Linked DNA regions of Homo sapiens: region 1 is linked to region 2. The links come from fine-mapping of genetic effects on gene expression. A gene starts in region 2. The other region holds a variant in brackets. All regions are shown on one strand. Distances are from middle to middle.

What was found. PIP is the estimated chance that this variant, and not a neighbour inherited with it, causes the effect.
Region 1: its variant is fine-mapped to the expression of CNTRL in whole blood (INTERVAL, PIP 0.96).

The regions. Positions count from the first base shown.
Region 1 is chr9:121,123,941-121,132,275 of GRCh38, forward strand. CNTRL (centriolin) reads left to right here. Exons shown (of 44, transcript NM_007018.6): 13 at 1-144; 14 at 1,776-1,996. Among named protein-coding and RNA genes, the nearest start is that of CNTRL, 53 kb to the left of the region's middle. The variant C/T (reference allele first, on the strand shown) is at 4,231.
Region 2 is chr9:121,070,556-121,078,834 of GRCh38, forward strand. CNTRL (centriolin) reads left to right here and starts at 4,400. Exons shown (of 44, transcript NM_007018.6): 1 at 4,400-4,512. It also overlaps a transcript of C5 not described here. RefSeq lists enhancers at 1,572-1,621, 3,975-4,364 and silencers at 3,664-3,860, 4,485-4,544, 4,665-4,804.

The DNA of each region.
Region 1 (8,335 bases), 53 kb after region 2:
AGGCTCAAAAGAGCGGTAAAGAACAACAGCTTGACATTATGAACAAGCAGTACCAACAACTTGAAAGTCGTTTGGATGAGATACTTTCTAGAATTGCTAAGGAAACGGAAGAGATTAAGGACCTTGAAGAACAGCTTACTGAAGGTAAGACTTTCAGTATGATTTAAGGTAAATCAGTGTTATTGCTGGTAAAAGAAACATTATAAAGACAAGCATTAATCCAGATAGTAGCTAAATACAGTTCACCTATTAGTACTAGTATTTGATAGGGAAATATTTACAGGATACCCAAAAGTAGTTAATGCAATTTTAAGAGTTTTGTTTTTGTTTTGTTTTGTGGCATTGATGCCTAGTGAGTCAGGTCATTCCAGTCAGTAGGCCAGAAGTCAATACGTGATCATGATAAGCTCTGGCATGTGATTGTCTATGACATAAAATCCATTCAGGAGCAAAGCACCCATTGGCATCAGGGAATTCAGTGTCTGGTTATAAGAAGAAAGAGTTTTAGGATCTAGTTTTGCAATGCTGATTTAAACTGCGACATATCCATAATAGTGGAAAAGGAAGACAATAGGCCATAGTGGTTTTTACACATAGGGCTCAGTGTAAAAAGATCCTGCTCTCTGTTTTGCTACTGTCAGCTGTGTCGCCTTGGACAAGTTGTTTTTATCTCAATCATTAGTTGTTGGGAGAATTAAATGAGCTAGTATTCATAGGCCAGGAGTGGTGGCTCACGCCTGTAATCCTAGCACTTTGGGAGGCTGAGGCGGGCATATCATTTGAGCCCAGGAGTTCGAGATCAGCATGGGCAACATGGCGAAACCCCGTCTCTACAAAAAAAAAAAAAAAAAATTAGCCAGGCGTAGTGGTATGTGTGCTTGTGGCACCATCTGCTTGGGAGACTGAGGGTGGAGGATCACCTGAGCTCAGGGAGGTTGAGGCTACAGTGAACCGTGATTGTGCCACTGCACTCCAGCCTAGGTGACAGAGTGAAACTTTGTCTGAAAAAAAAAAAAAAAGAGAGAGATAGTGTTCATAAAGTTCCTGGCACATAGTGCGTATCCAGTACTGTACATGGGATGTGTGTGTTTGTGTTCTAAGTGTTTAGGTTACACATTTATGTTGCCAGTCTTGGATTCATCTTATATACTAGGTGGTCTTGTTCTTTGTATTTAGCAGCAAGAACTCACAGTTTTGGTACATATTTTTTATTTTATTTGTAAATTAAACTTTTTTTTTTTTTTTGAGACGGAGCCTCGCTCTGTCACCCAGGCTGGAGTGCAGTGGCGTGATCTTGGCTCACTGCAACCTCTGCCTCCTGGGTTCAAGTGATCCTCCTGCCTCAGCCTCGTGAGTAGCAGGGACTACAGGCACATGCCCGGCTAATTTTTTGTATTTTTAATAGAGACGGGGTTTCACTGTGTTAGCCAGGATGGTCTCGATCTCCTGACCTCATGATCCGCCTGCCTTGGCCTCCCAAAGTGCTGGGATTACAGGCTTGAACCACCACACCCGGCCGAAATTAAACTTTTTACAGCATGAATCAGGCATTTTATAAGCATTGCCCCCTAAATGTACTATTTTTATTTTATACCTGCTTAATACTCCTTTGCTATCTATAATAGGAAGAAAATTTAACATTATGTTTTGAAAAAGAAAAATGATAGGAAAGAATTGAAAGCTTAGAATTTCACTCTTGGCTTATAACAAAATGCTGAGCAGACAATGCAGTACTTTAAAAAGATATATTATTACCCTTTTTGCATCTTGCTTAGGCCAGATAGCAGCAAATGAAGCCCTGAAGAAGGATTTAGAAGGTGTTATCAGTGGGTTGCAAGAATACCTGGGGACCATTAAAGGCCAGGCAACTCAGGCCCAGAATGAGTGCAGGAAGCTGCGGGATGAGAAAGAGACATTGTTGCAGAGATTGACAGAAGTCGAGCAGGAGAGAGACCAGCTGGAAATAGTTGCCATGGATGCAGAAAATATGAGGAAGGTATGATTTTTTTCCTGCCTATTTTCCGTAGCTTCATAAGTAGATAATGTCCAAATTAAGTTAGTTGGAGGAGGTAACAGTACATTTTTAAGTGGGAAAAAGTATTAGTGGCTATATGGTGATTTTTTTCTTTTAACAGTTGGGCTTTTTTTTTTCTTCTTTAGCTGTGATACATTTGGAATTATTATTTTTTCTTTGCTCAGAAAAGGAAGATTATTTAAGCTGCATTTCTATCCCTGAAAGGTATTGTTGCCAAATAACTCTAAAGAATATGAAATGGTAGCTATTACAAATATTGTATTAAATGCTCATATTTTATTTGTGCTGAAAAATTGAGCACAGAATGGTTTTTCTTAGTCTTGTTGTTACTGGATAATTTTAACATTATTTTATAGCTAACAAAACAGACATATTGTTTTAAATTATATCCTTATGAACCTGATTTGTTGCACATTCGTTTGGAGATTTCCCTTGCTCTATTTTAGTTGTTTGGAAAATGTTATCATACATGAGAACTAGAGATTTCCAAACTTCTTGTTCAGTAGAGCTGGCTCCAGAAATTGAATTAATATATTTTAATATTATGAAATATCTCAGGCATATTTAAAAAATCACAAATAATATTTAACATCATGTACTGACAACCCAGCTTAAGAAATAAAACATTATAGGTACATTTGAAATCCTCTGTCTACTCCTTTCCAGAAGTAACAAAGTTCTGAATATGGTTATTATTTCCCTGCACCTCTATTCTTTTATTATATATGTAAACATCCATAAGCAATATATAGTATTTTCCTTGATTTTAAGACTTATACAAAATGTATCATAGTGTACATATTTGGCCACTTTCTTTCTTCCTTCATGTTTATGTTTTTGTTTGTTTGTTTTGGTTTTTTTTTGAGATGAATTTTCGCTCTTGTTGCCCAGGCTGGAGTGCAGTGGCGCAATCTCGGCTCACTGCATCCTCCGCCTCCTGGGTTGAAGCGATTCTCCTGCCTCAGCCTCCCGAGTAGCTGGGAGTACAGGCATTCACCACCTGCCCGGCTAATTTTGTATTTTTAGTAGAGATGGGGTTTCTCCATGTTGGTCAGGCTGGTCTCGAACTCCCGACCTCAGGTGATCCGCCTGCCTTGGCCTCTGAAAGTGCTCGGATTACAGGTGTGAGCCACAGCGCCTGGCCTATGTTTTCGAGAATTATGCACACTGATAGATGTAGTTCTACTTTGTTCATTTTTACTGATATATGTACCATCCTGCTTTATGGACATACCACAAATTTATTATTTATTCCTTCTCTTTTTGGGGTGCATTTAGGTGATTTCCAGTGTTATGCTATTGCAAACAATGCTGAGCATAACATTCCTGCACACATCTTGAACACATGGGGACTATGCTCAGAAGCAGAACTGTGGGTCAGAGTATGTCCATCCTTCATTAAGTTCAGTAGATATTGTCAAATTACTTTTCATAGTGAGTTTATCAGCTTCTACTCCCACCAGCAATGTGGGGGCTACCATTCTTGCCACATCCTTGCCAACGCTGTAGTGTTGTCCAACTTTTTTTTAAAGCTTATATTTTGAAATAACTCCAAACTTGCAGGAAAGTTGCAAGAGGAATACAAATAACTCACATTTGCCTTTCACCGAGAGTCACCAATTACTATTTTAACACATTTGCTTTATCTCCTCATATGTAATTTCTACATGATTTTATATACTTTTTAATTATTATTATACTTTAAGTTCTAGGGTACATGCAGATTTGTTACATAGGTATACATGTTTCACGTTGGTTTGCTGCACCCATTAACTCGTCATTTACATTAGGTATATCTCCTAATGCTATCCCTCCCCCCTCCCCCCACCCCACGACAGGCCCCGGTGTGTGATGTTCCCTGCCCTGTGTCCAAGTGTTCTCATTATTCAGTTCCTACCTATGAGTGAGAACATGCGGTGTTTGGTTTTCTGTCCTTGTGATAGTTTGCAAAGAATGATGGTTTCCAGCTGCATCCATGTCCCTGCAAAGGACATGAACTCATCCTTTTTTATGGCTGCATAGTATTCCATGGTTTATATGTGCTGCATTTTCTTAATCCAGTCTATCGTTGATGGACATTTGGGTTGGTTCCAAGTTTTTGCTATTATGAATAGTGCCGCAATAAACACATGTGTGCATGTGTCTTTATAGTAGCATGATTTATAATCCTTTGGGTATATACCCAGTAATGGGAT[C/T]GCTGGGTCAAATGGTATTTCTAGTTCTAGATCCTTGAGGAATCGCCACATTGTCTTCCACAAAGGTTGAACTAGTTTACACTCCCACCAACAGTGTAAAAGCATTCCTGTTTCTCCACATCCTCTCCAGCATCTGTTGTTTCCTGACTTTTTAATGATCACCATTCTAACTGGTGTGAAATGGTATCTCATTGTGGTTTTGATTTGCATTTCTCTGATGGCCAGTGATGATGAGCATTTTTTCATGTGTCTGTTGGCTGCATAAATGTCTTCTTTTGAGAAATGTCTATTCGTATCCTTTGCCCCCTTTTTGATGGGGTTGTTTTTTTCTTGTAAATTTGTTTAAGTTCTTTGTAGATTCTGGATATTAGCCCTTTGTCAGATGAGCAGATTGCAAAAATTTTCTCCCATTCTGTAGGTTGCCTGTTCACTCTGATGGTAGTTTCTTTTGCTGTGCAGAAGCTCTTTGGTTTAATTAGATCCCATTTGTCTATTTTGGCTTTTGTTGCCATTGCTTTTGGTGTTTTAGTCATGAAGTCCTTGCCCATGCCTATGTCCTGAATAGTATTGCCTAGGTTTTCTTCTAGGATTTTTATGGTTTTAGGTCTAACATGTAAGTCTTTAATCTATCTTGAATTAATTTTTGTATAAGGTGTAAGGAAGAGATCCAGTTTCAGCTTTCTACATATGGCTAGCCAGTTTTCCCAGCACCATTTATTAGTGATCCTTTCCCCATTTCTTGTTTTTGTCAGGTTTGTCAAAGATCAGATGGTTGTAGATGTGTGGTGTTATTTATTTCTGCAGTCTCTGTTCTGTTCCATTGGTCTATATATCTGTTTTGGTACCAGTACCATGTTGTTTTGTTTACTGTAGCCTTGTAGTATAGTTTAAAGTCAGGTAGCGTGATGCCTCCAGCTTTGTTCTTTTTGCTTAGGATTGTCTTGGCAATGCAGGCTCTTTTTTGGTTCCATATGAACTTTAAAGTAGTTTTTTCGAACTCTGTGAAGAAAGTCATTGGTAGCTTGATGGGAATGGCATTGAATCTATAAATTACCTTGGGCAGTATGGCCATTTTCACGGTATTGATTCTTCCTACCCATGAGCATGGAATGTTCTTCCATTTGTTTGTGTCCTCTTTTATTTTGTTGAGCTGTGGTTTGTAGTTCTTGAAGACGTCCTTCACATCCCTTGTAAGTTGGATTCCTAGGTATTTTACTCTCTTTGTAGCAATTGTGAATGGGAGTTCACTCACGATTTGGCTCTCTGTCTATTATTGGTGTATAGGAATGCATGTGATTTTTGCACATTGATTTTTGTATCCTGAGACTTTGCTGAAGTTGCATATCAGCTTAAGGAGATTTTGGCTGAGACGATGGGGTTTTCTAAATATACAATCATGTCATCTGCAAACTGAGACAATTTGACTTCCTCTTTTCCTAATTGAATACCCTTTATTTCTTTCTCTTTTCTGATTGCCCTGGCCGGAACTTCCAACACTATGTTGAATAGGAGTGGTGAGAGAGGGCATCCCTGTCTTGTGCCAGTTTTCAAAGGGAATGCTTCCAGTTTTTGCCCATTCAGTATGATATTGGCTGTGGGTTTGTCATAAATAGCTCTTATTATTTTGAGATACGTGCCATCAATACCTAGTTTATTGACAGTTTTTAGCATGAAGGGCAATTGAAGTTTGTTGAAGGCCTTTTCTGCATCTATTGAGATATCATGTGGTTTTTGTCATTAGTTCTGTTTATGTGATGGATTATGTTTATTGATTTGTGTATGTTGAACCAGCCTTGCATCCCAGGGATGAAGCCGACTTGATCGTGGTGGATAAGCTTTTTGATGTGCTGCTGGATTCGGTTTGCCAGTATTTTATTGAGGATTTTCACATCGATATTCATCAGGGATATTGGTCTAAAATTCTCTTTTTTTGTTGTGTCTCTGCCAGGCTTTGGTATCAGGATGATGCTGGCCTCATAAAATGAGTTAGGATTCCCTCTTTTTCTATTCATTGGAAGAGTTTCAGAAGGAATGGTACCAGCTCCTCTTTGTACCTCTGGTAGAATTCAGCTGTGAATCCATCTGGTCCTGGAGTTTTTTTGGTTGGTAGGCTATTAATTATTGCCTCAATTTCAGATCCTGTTATTGGTCTATTCAGAGATTCAACTTCTTCCTGGTTTAGTCTTGGGAGGGTGTATGTGTCCAGGAATTTATCCATTTCTTCTAGATTTTCTAGTTTATTTGCATAAAGGTGTTTATAGTATTCTCTGATGGTAGTTTGTATCTCTGTGGGATTGGTGGTGATACCCTCTTTATCATTTTTTATTGCATCTATTTGATTCTACCCTCTTTTCTTCTTTGTTAGTCTTGCTAGCGGTCTATCTATTTTGTTGATCTTTTCAAAAAACCAGCTCCTGGATTCACTGATTCTTTTGAAGGGTTTTTTGTGTCTCTATCCCCTTTAGTTTGGCTCTGATCTTAGTTGTTTCTTGCCTTCTGCTAGCTTTTGAATGTGTTTGCTCTTGCTTCTCTAGTTCTTTTAGTTGTGTTGTTAGGGTATTGATTTTAGATCTTTCCTGCTTTCTCTTGTGGGCATTTAGTGCTATACATTTCCCTTTACACACTGCTTTAAATGTGTCCTAGAGATTCTGGTATGTTGTGTCTTTGTTCTCATTGGTTTCAAAGAACATCTTTATTTCTGCCTTCATTTCATTGTGTATCCAGTAGTCATTAGGAGCAGGTCGTTTAGTTTCCATGTGGTTGAGTGGTTTTGAGTGAGTTTCTTAATCCTGAGTTCTAATTTGATTGCACTGTGGTCTGAGAGACAGTTTGTTGTGATTTCTGTTCTTTTACATTTTTTGAGGAGTGCTTTACTTCCAACTATGTGGTCAATTTTGGAATAAGTGAGATGTGGTGCTGAGAAGAATGTATATTCTGTTGATTTGGGGTGGAGAATTCTGTAGATATCTATTAGGTCTGCTTGGTGCAGAGCTGAGTTCAATTCCTGGATATCCTTGTTAACCTTCTGTCTTGTTGATCTGTCTAATATTGACAGTGGGGTGTTAAAGTCTCCCATTATTATTGTGTAGGAGTCTAAGTCTCTTTGTAGGTCTCTAAGGACTTGCTTTATGAATCTGGGTTCTCCTGTATTGGGTGCATATATGTTTAGGATAGTCAGCCCTTCTTGTTGAATTGATCCCTTCACCATTATGTAATACCCTTCTTTGTCGCTTTTGATCTTTGTTGGTTTAAAGTCTGTTTTATCAGAGACTAGGATTGCAGGCCCTGCTTTTTTTTGCTTTCCATTTGCTTGGTAGATCTTCCTCCATTCCTTTATTTTGAACCTATGTGTGTCTCTGCACATGAGATGGGTCTCCTGAATATAGCACACTGATGGGTCTTGACTCTTTATCCAATTTGCCAGTCTGTGTCTTTTAATTGGGGGCATTTAGCCCATTTACATTTAAGGTTAATATTGTTATGTGTGGATTTGATCCTGTTGTTATGATGCTAGCTGGTTATTTTGTCCGTTAGTTGATGCAGTTTCTTCCTGGCATTGATGGTCTTTACAATTTGGCATGTTTTTGCAGTGGCTGGTACGGGTTGTTCCTTTCCATGTTTAGTGCTTCCTTCAGGAGCTCTTGTAAGGCAGGCCTGGTGGTGACAAAATCTCTCAGCATTTGCTTGTCTGTAAAGGATTTTATTTCTCCTTCACTCATGAAGCTTAGTTTGGTTGAATATGAGATTCTGGGTTGAAAATTATTTTCTTTTAAGAATGTTGAATATTGGCCTCTACTCTCTTCTGGCTTGTAGAGTTTCTGAGAGATCTGCTGTTAGTCTGATGGGCTTCCCTTTGTGGGTAACCCAGCCTTTCTCTCTGGCTGCCCTTACATTTTTTCCTTCATGTCAACCTTAGGGAATCTGACAATTATGTGTCTTGGAGTTGCTCTTCTCGAGGAGTATCTTTGTGGTGTTCTCTGTATTTCCTGAATTTGAATGTTGGCCTGCCTTGCTAGGTTAGGGAAGTTCTCCTGGATAATATCCTGAAGAGTGTTTTCCAACTTAGTTCCATTCTCCCTGTCACTTTTCAGGTACACCATTCAAA
Region 2 (8,279 bases):
GAAATACTGTAATTCACAGCAACACGGATGGAAATGGAAGACAGTATATTACGTGAATAAGCCAGGAACAGTAAGTTAAATGCCACATGTTCTCAGTCATATGTCGAAGCTGAAAAATGTTGATCTCATAGGAGTAAACAGTAGAACAGAGGATACTAAAGGTTGGGAAGGGTAGCAGGGGGAAGGGAAGGAGAGAAAGATATCTTAAAGGATACAAAATTATAGCTAGATAGGAGCAATAAGTTCTAGTGTTCTATACTTACTATAGGATGAGGATAGTTAACAATAATATATTATATAGTTTCAAATAGCTAGAAGGAGGGTATGAAATCTTCCTAAAATAAACATATGATGTTTGGGATGATGGATATGCTAATTACTCCAACCACTATACATTTATATGTATTAAAACATCACTATGTATCCCATAAATATGTACAGTTACTACATGTCATTTAAAAATAAAAATTAAGGTTGGGTATGGTGACTCACACCTACAAACCTAGCACTTTGGGGGACCAAGGCAAGCGGATACTTGAGGCCAGGAGTTGAAGACCAGCCTGATCAACATGGTGAAGCACTGTCTGTACTAAAAATACACACACATACACAAAAATAGCTGGGCGTGGAGTCACACACCTGTAATCACAGCTACTGGGGAGGCTAAGGCACAAAAATTGTTTGAACCCTGGAGGTGGAGGTTGCAGTGAGCCATGATCGTGCTACTGCACTCCAGCCTGGGCAACAGAGTGAGACTCTGTCTCAAAAAAACAAAAACAAGAACAAAAAACAAAACACACCAACAAAAACAAAAAAAAATAAATGAATAAAAATTAAAAAAAAATCAGGCTGGGCATGCTGGCTCATGCGTGTAATCCCAGCACTTTGGGAGGTTGAGGTGGGAGGATCGCTTGAGCCCAGGAGTTTAAGACCAGCCTGGGCAACACAGCAAGACCCCATCTTTACAAAAAGTTTAAAAATTAGCTAGGTGTGGTGGTGCACACCTATAGACTGAGCTATTTGGGAGGCTGAGGGAGGAGGATCACTTGAGTCTGAGAAGTCAAGGCTGCAGTGAGTTATGATTGTGTCACTGCACTGAAACCTGGGTGACAGAGTGAGACCTTGTCTTAAAAAACAAAACAACAAAATCACACTGGCCAGTCACAGAAAGAAATGGCAATAATGAAAGTTGCCATCCCTGTCTGACAAACTAGTCTGTTTCTTCTCTAAAACAAATTCGCAAAATGATTAAACTGGGTTGCAAAAAGCTGAGGGAAGTTTAAACAGAATAGCTTTGCTATCATTTGGAAAAAAGACTGAGTAAAAGCTTGGTCACCCTGACGTGGCTAATATTTGTATTGTAAATGCAACTCAGAGTACATTCTTCATAATATCAGATAAAGAAAAATAGTGTGGAACGCGAGTTGTCTGCGTTACTTTCGTATTCTCACTTCTGCTTTGGAGAAGGAAGTTCTTTTAGCATGCTAAGAGAGACAGTTAATATTCAAATTAACTGGAGAAAGGTCTCTCCTTTGAAGTCTCTAGCTTCGTTAGAGATGATGCTAGACACCAGCAGAGGTCTGTATGAGGAGGAAAAGGGGGCAACATGGGACCGGTGAGTGCCCATCCGCGGCTAACTGGATACGGACTGAGAGATCACCCAAGAGAAAAGTGTTTTGCGCCACCCTCTGGACTTTTTATGTATATTTGATGGCTATTAATTGATACTAATATGATTGATAATGAACTACATCAGCACACCACGGCTTGATAATGGATCCCACGTGAATACCATTACAGACTTTGAGGGACACAGCAATGAGGTTACGCAATAAATCTAAGTTTCTGGGTACAAGAAACCGAAACGATGGGTGTCAAAACATATGCAAATAGAACTGAAACTCAGCAACGTACACATTCCAATCTAATAAATATCACCTGAACTTCGATTAAAAATGAATGTAATCTCGGCAGGGCGCGGTGGCTCACGCCTGTAATCCCAGCACTTTGGGAGGCCGAGGCGGGCGGATCACGTGAGGTCAGGAGATTGAGACCAGCCTGACCAACATGGTGAAACTCTGTTTCTACTAAAATACAAAAATTAGCTGGCCTTGGTGGTGCGTGCCTGTAATCCCAACTCCTCGGGAGGCTGAGGCAGGAGAATCGCTTGAACCCGGGAGGCGGAGGTTGCACTGAGCCGAGATCCTGCCACTGCACTCCAGCCTGGGTGACAGAGCCAGACTCTGTTCAAAAAATTAAAAAAAAAAAAAAAAAAAAGAAAAGAAAAAAAATGAATGTAATCTCCTCTTAAGTGGAGCTTTTCAAAAATTCTGCGTTTAAACTCCAAGGGCTTCGTTCTGTGTCGTGTAAATAGTTGGGGAGAGGACAGCACCATTCACTTAAATGTCAATGGGAATCACATTTAAGTAAAAGGAAAAGGAAATCAGTAAATCAAAGTAAATCAAAGACACATCTGCATCCCCATGTTTATTGCAGCTTATTCCCTGTTGGACGTCCCCTGAATTTCCTATAGAGGTGAAGCCATCTCTGCCTTAAGGAAAAATGAAGTGCCTAATACTGCTTATAATATGGTCCCTTTTCCAGATTTAGCTTCTCCACCCCAGATTTTTGCACAAGCCATACTGAACTACTTCATGTTTCCATACTCATGTTTTGTTCCAGCCACACTGAATTACTTAACATTCAGCACATTGCCAAGCTCTTTTCCCCCGCTTCCGGGGTTTGCACAAGTTGTTCCCTTTGCCAAGCAAATTCTTCCCCACCTCCCTACTCCTTGCCTAAACTCTTCTTTTGGGCGTAGAAAGAAGTATTGCTTCTGGGTAACCTTTGTCTAATAATGAAATATCTAAGACATATTGAGAACTTACTATGGGTCCCTCACTGTTCTAAGTTCTTTCACAGAGATTCACTTTTATAATTATCAGGAAAACTGGACTTTTTTTTTTTTTTTTTTTTTTTGAGATGGAGTCTCGCTCTGTCGTCCAGGCTGGAGTGCAGTGGCGCGATCTCGGCTCACTGCAACCTCCGCCTCCCGGGTTCAAGCGATCCTCCTGCAGCCTCTCAAGCAGCTGGGATGACAAGCGTGCGCCACCACGCCCGGGTAATTTTTGTATTTTTAGTAGAGACGGCGTTTCACCTTGTTGGCCAGGCTGATCTTGAATTCCTGACCTCAAGTGATCCTCCCACCTTGGTCTCCCAAAGTGCTGGGATTACAGGCATGAGCCACAGCGCCCGGCCAGGATTCACTTTTATAATTATCAGGAAAACTGTAGGAAGTGTTAATAGGTAAAAGGACCTCATTTCATAGATAAGGAAACTGAGACACAGAGAGAGAGGGAGTTTCTAAAAGTGTTATACAGGTGGCCTATAAACTCTGTAGTGAAGAAAGGAAATGAAGACAGGATAGAATGATCGCGAGAAAATGGTAAGAACAAGGGACTGGAAGACGCAAGGAAGTTTAGAAATACGCTGGCATAGGGGTCTTTTGAGCAGGCACGCTGCTAAGATGATAGGATTATAGTCAAGGATGGGGAGCGATTGCACTGGGGATTTCTGGAGCGGGTGCAGCCTCTGATGGTAACATGGTCCAGGGTATACCTTCAAAACGGGAGGCTACTGGAGTGAAAGGCGTCAATGGTGATAACACTTTAAAAAAAACTTCAGTGTTTCCCTAGCATCCAGCCCAGTATCTGCTAAATTCTTTAAAATATCTGTTGAATGCATGTCGTGAACGCCGTGCTCATGGGCAAGCCCCAGATGAAGCCTGTGCAAGTGCTTCTTGCTTTAACTCCCTTGTAGCAATCAGAGGAACATCCTCTGCCTAGGATTCCCAAGCTCCCTGAACCTCACGCGACAGCTGGAGCCCAGGCTGCGTCCGCTTTGAGGTTCATCCGAGCCTGGGCAGTTCGGTCCCTGGAGGGAATTCGCTTTAGATACGACTGTCAGAGAGAAGTGTGCTGATAAGAACACTCGCTCATAGCGCGCAAGCATCAGAAGTGGGGGAGGCCGGGGAGGCGCTGCGCCGGTGCCTCAGGCCGTCCTCGGACACAGGCCCTGAGAAGCGTGTCCGTGTTTCAGAGGGTGGCGGCGGCAGCTTTGTCTCAGCGAAGGCCACAGCACTGCGGGCAGCTGCCGCATGAAACCTCGGCTCCCCCTGACTCTGCACCCGACACTTCACCTGCAACGCAATCCGAAGGCGAAGGCACCGCATCCCGTCGGCCCCGCGCGGCCGGAAGCCTCGCGCCCAAGACTCCCCGGCATCCTAGCGCGCTGGCTGCAAAAGAGGCGGGAAACGCCTCCGCGTCCCTTCCAACAGTACCGGAGAGGGAGAGGGGCGTGGCTGAGACTAGCCCCGACCACGCGCGCGCGGCCCCTCGGCAACCGGCACAACACAACAAAATGGCTGCCGCGCCGCTGGGCCCCTGAGGAAAGAGCCCGAACTTCTCCCGCTCTACCTCAGCCTGCGGGACTGCTCGGCTCGGCTTCTAGGCGGTGAGCGTCAGACCTGGCCGAGCCCGTTCCCCGGCATCCGGCCCGAGCAGTGGGGGCCGGCGGCAAAGGCGGGAAGGCCCGGACCGGGCGTGGTGTGGGCCGGCTTGGGATGGATTCGGGGCGGGGGCGCGTGTCTGGGAATTGGGATTGGACGGGAAAGAGGGGAGGGCCCGGAACGGGCGTGGGGCGGTGGATGAAGGAGGGAGGTTTGGATGGGAAGAGGTGGGGACGGCGGGGGCGATTGGGGATGAAGAACCAGAGTGTGGGGAGGTGTGGAAGTTAGGGTGCGGCGCCCAGAAGGTTGTGGGTCCTGCCACCTGAGCTGAGGGGAGAGCTGGGATGTGCCAGCTGTCTGTGGGGAGTGAGCGGGAGAAAGGACAGTTTGGGCGTCCTGACGGGTTGTCACGGTATCGGACGGAGTACAGTGCGTGGAGAAAGATGACAGGATATGGGGACGAAATGCTAAAAGAAGGGGAAGAACAAACACTTCCGTTATATTCGTTAAGGGACTAGAGAATTTTGAAGCCAGACAAACTTGGGTTGAAGCCTCAATTCTGCCACCTTGTGTAACTTAACCAGGTCTGTGACCCTGGATATGTGTCTGAGCCTTCCTGATCATGTTTCCTCATTTGTCCAAATAATTGCGAATCATTTTTGGGTGTTCACTATTTGTCAGATCCAGTTTTAAGCACTTTGCACGTATTAACCTCATTTAGAATTTAAAATAACTTGTATGAGGTTATCATCCCCATTTAAAAAGTGATAGCACTGAGGACCAGAGAGGTTAAGTAATTTGCCTAAGATCACACAGTAAGTGGAAAATCAGAATTTGAACTCAGGCTGTTTCGTTCCAGAATCCAAGCTTTTAACTGTTCAGGTACATTGCCATTTGTAAATCAGGTTAATAATTCTGATCCTATACAGCTAAATCTTTGAGGATTTAAATTTGGTATTGTCTAAGTGTTTAGTACAGTCCTTCAGTCAACAAATATTTATTGTTTATAGAACAACAGACAAAACCTCTGCTCTCTTGTAGCTTATAGTCTAGAAGGAGAAACAGGCAACAACCAAGTAGTTTCACAAATAATGGTTATAAAATGCTATGAAGGAGACTGCTTGGTGCAGAGATCATGGGTAATAGGGAGATAAAATCTTCTGCATCTTGAGCTTAGATTCTAGCATGGTTCTTCCTACATAAAAGTTGCTCAATAAAATTGAATAATTAATGGAAAGAGATGGGAAGCTTGAGTTTTAGGGTATCTGAGCAGAAGAAGAGAGATGGGAGAGGGGATTCAGGCTTTTAATAGGATGGAGAAGGATACGGGGGCTAGAGTATTAGGATGGAAAGGCAAATAGGCAGGCAGTTGGGTTGGGATGAAGAGGAATGGATGGAGGTTTGAGTATTTTGTTTAGGGAGGGGAGTAATTGGAGGTCAGAGTATTGGAACGCATTAGGATGTCAGGGTATTTTCTGGGGTGAAGAGAGATGAGCAGCTTGGGAAGTCTGGATGGATAGAGAAATGTTGAGTCTGGGCACAGGAAAGAACCATAGAGAAATGGGGGAGACTATTACTGTGTTAGGGAACTGGGATAGAATTTGTGGGAAAATTGGCAATCAGAATGGGATAAAGAAGAATGGGAGGCAGAGGTGGGTGGGCAGCACAGAATGGGGGAATTGGCTTTGGAAAGAAAAATGGCTGGAGACTTTGCAGAGGAATCGGAATCAGGATATTTGAAAGGAGGAGAAGATTAAGGAGTAAAAGTATTTCAGTAGGTCAGAGGGTATGGGATGAAGTAGACTTGGAAAGTACTGAAATCCAATTAAAGGGCTAAGGAGAGGGATATGGGGGTTAATAAATGGGGATGGGTATTTGCATATTAGGGAGTCTGTAGAGAGACAGAAGGAGGTCTGCGTTATTTGGAGATCAGAGAAGATGGGAAGTTAGGAAGGTTAGGAAAGGCTGGATGGAGGTGGAGTTTGCAGTCTGTACTAAGCTGTGATGGACTGAATTGTTAGATCAGAGCAACTATCTGGGTTTATAGGTGGCAGGATGGGTAGTGTTTTGTTGCCTGGACGTAGGATTCTGATTATCATGTCATTCCAATGGCTTTCTCTTGCTCTGCAGACAGCCTTTAAAATACAACTGCAGCTCTGAACTTTATTTGCTTTTTTTTTCTCTTTATCCTGCTCCTTTACTCGCCCTAGCCTACCTCTCAGTTGTCTTCATTTTTCCATTGCTTGCTTGGTCTTTGTTCATGTGATTGCAAACAACATCCTAGATCAAACTACATCCTCATCTCTCCATTAAAATTATAATTCAGCATTTACCACCTCCAGGCAGTAGCCTAAGAAATAATGCCAGCCATTCTCAAACACTGTAAACCCCTAAGCCCACTTCACTGAGTTAGCTATTCTCTGAGACTGATTACGTCTATCTTGTTTCAGTGTCCAAGCTTTACAGAAGCTGTGGCAACCAAGGGTTTAAGTCTATGAATGAGTAAGCCTGACTTTTACTAATCAGGAGAGGTAATAAAGGACCTCATGATAGTCTGGTGAGACCTAAAGGGTCTTGATCATTAGGATGTAAAAACTACAGGCTGGGCACAGTGGCTCACACCTGTAATCCCAGCACTTTGGGAGGCTGAGGCAGGAGGATCACTTGAGCCCAGGAGTTCAAGACCAACCTGGGAACTATAGTGAGACCCCCCATCTCTACAAAAAATAAAAAATTAGCCAAGCGTGGTTATATGCGCCTGTAGTCCCAGCTACTCAGGAGGCTGAGGTAGGAGGATCACTTGAGCCCAGGAAGGCAAGGTTGCTGTGAGCCATGAGCATGCCACTACACTCCAGCCTGGGTGACAGAGAAAGACCTTGCCTCAGGGGGGAAAAAAACGCCAACTACGTACTATACATACTATAATAAATGTCATCTTTTAATCCATTTAATTAGGAATAAGATTTTACCTAAGCACATGCCTCTTAGCTTTTCTCAAATTTTAGAGTATTATCCTTATTTAGAAGGAGAATGCCAGTGCAGCTTAGCAGCATCAATAGTATTACTGAGGGCTGGGCATGGTGGCTGTAATCCCAGCACTTTGGGAGGCCGAGGTGGGTGGATCACCTGAGGTCAGAAGTTTGAGACCAGCCTGGCCAGCATGGCAAAACCTCATCTCTACTAAAAATAAAAAAAATTAGCCGGGCGTGGTGCTGTGCACCTGTAATCCCAGTTACTCAGTAGGTTGGGGCGGGACAATCACTTGAACCTGGGAGGCGGAGGTTATAGTGAGCCGAGATCACACCACCGCACTCCAGCCTGGGCAACAGAGCAGGACTCTGTCTCAAAAAAAGAAAAAAATAGTATTACTGAGACTACAGATTAAACTCAATTTCTCCCACTATACGCTCACAACATGATTCCGTAGGATTTTCCCCCACACATTAAGCAAGCAGTTAGTTCTGCAGTGGTGGGCACCACAGGACTGTCCTCTAGTTCAGTTCAATTCTGACACTGTCTACCTGGAGACAGCGTCACATCCCTAAGGTTGAAGGCTGGCTTACAAGACTGCCCCCAAGTTCTGATGCCAACTGTAAGCCTCAGTTTTACCTGTGCTTCTGACTGACCAGCTATAAATCAGAGTTCCCACAACTCCCTCCTTGGGTTTGATTAATTTGCTAGAGCAGCTCACAGAATTCAGGGAGCACTTACTTACATTTACTGGTTTATTATAAAAGATATTACAAAGGATATAGGTGAAAAGATGCATAGC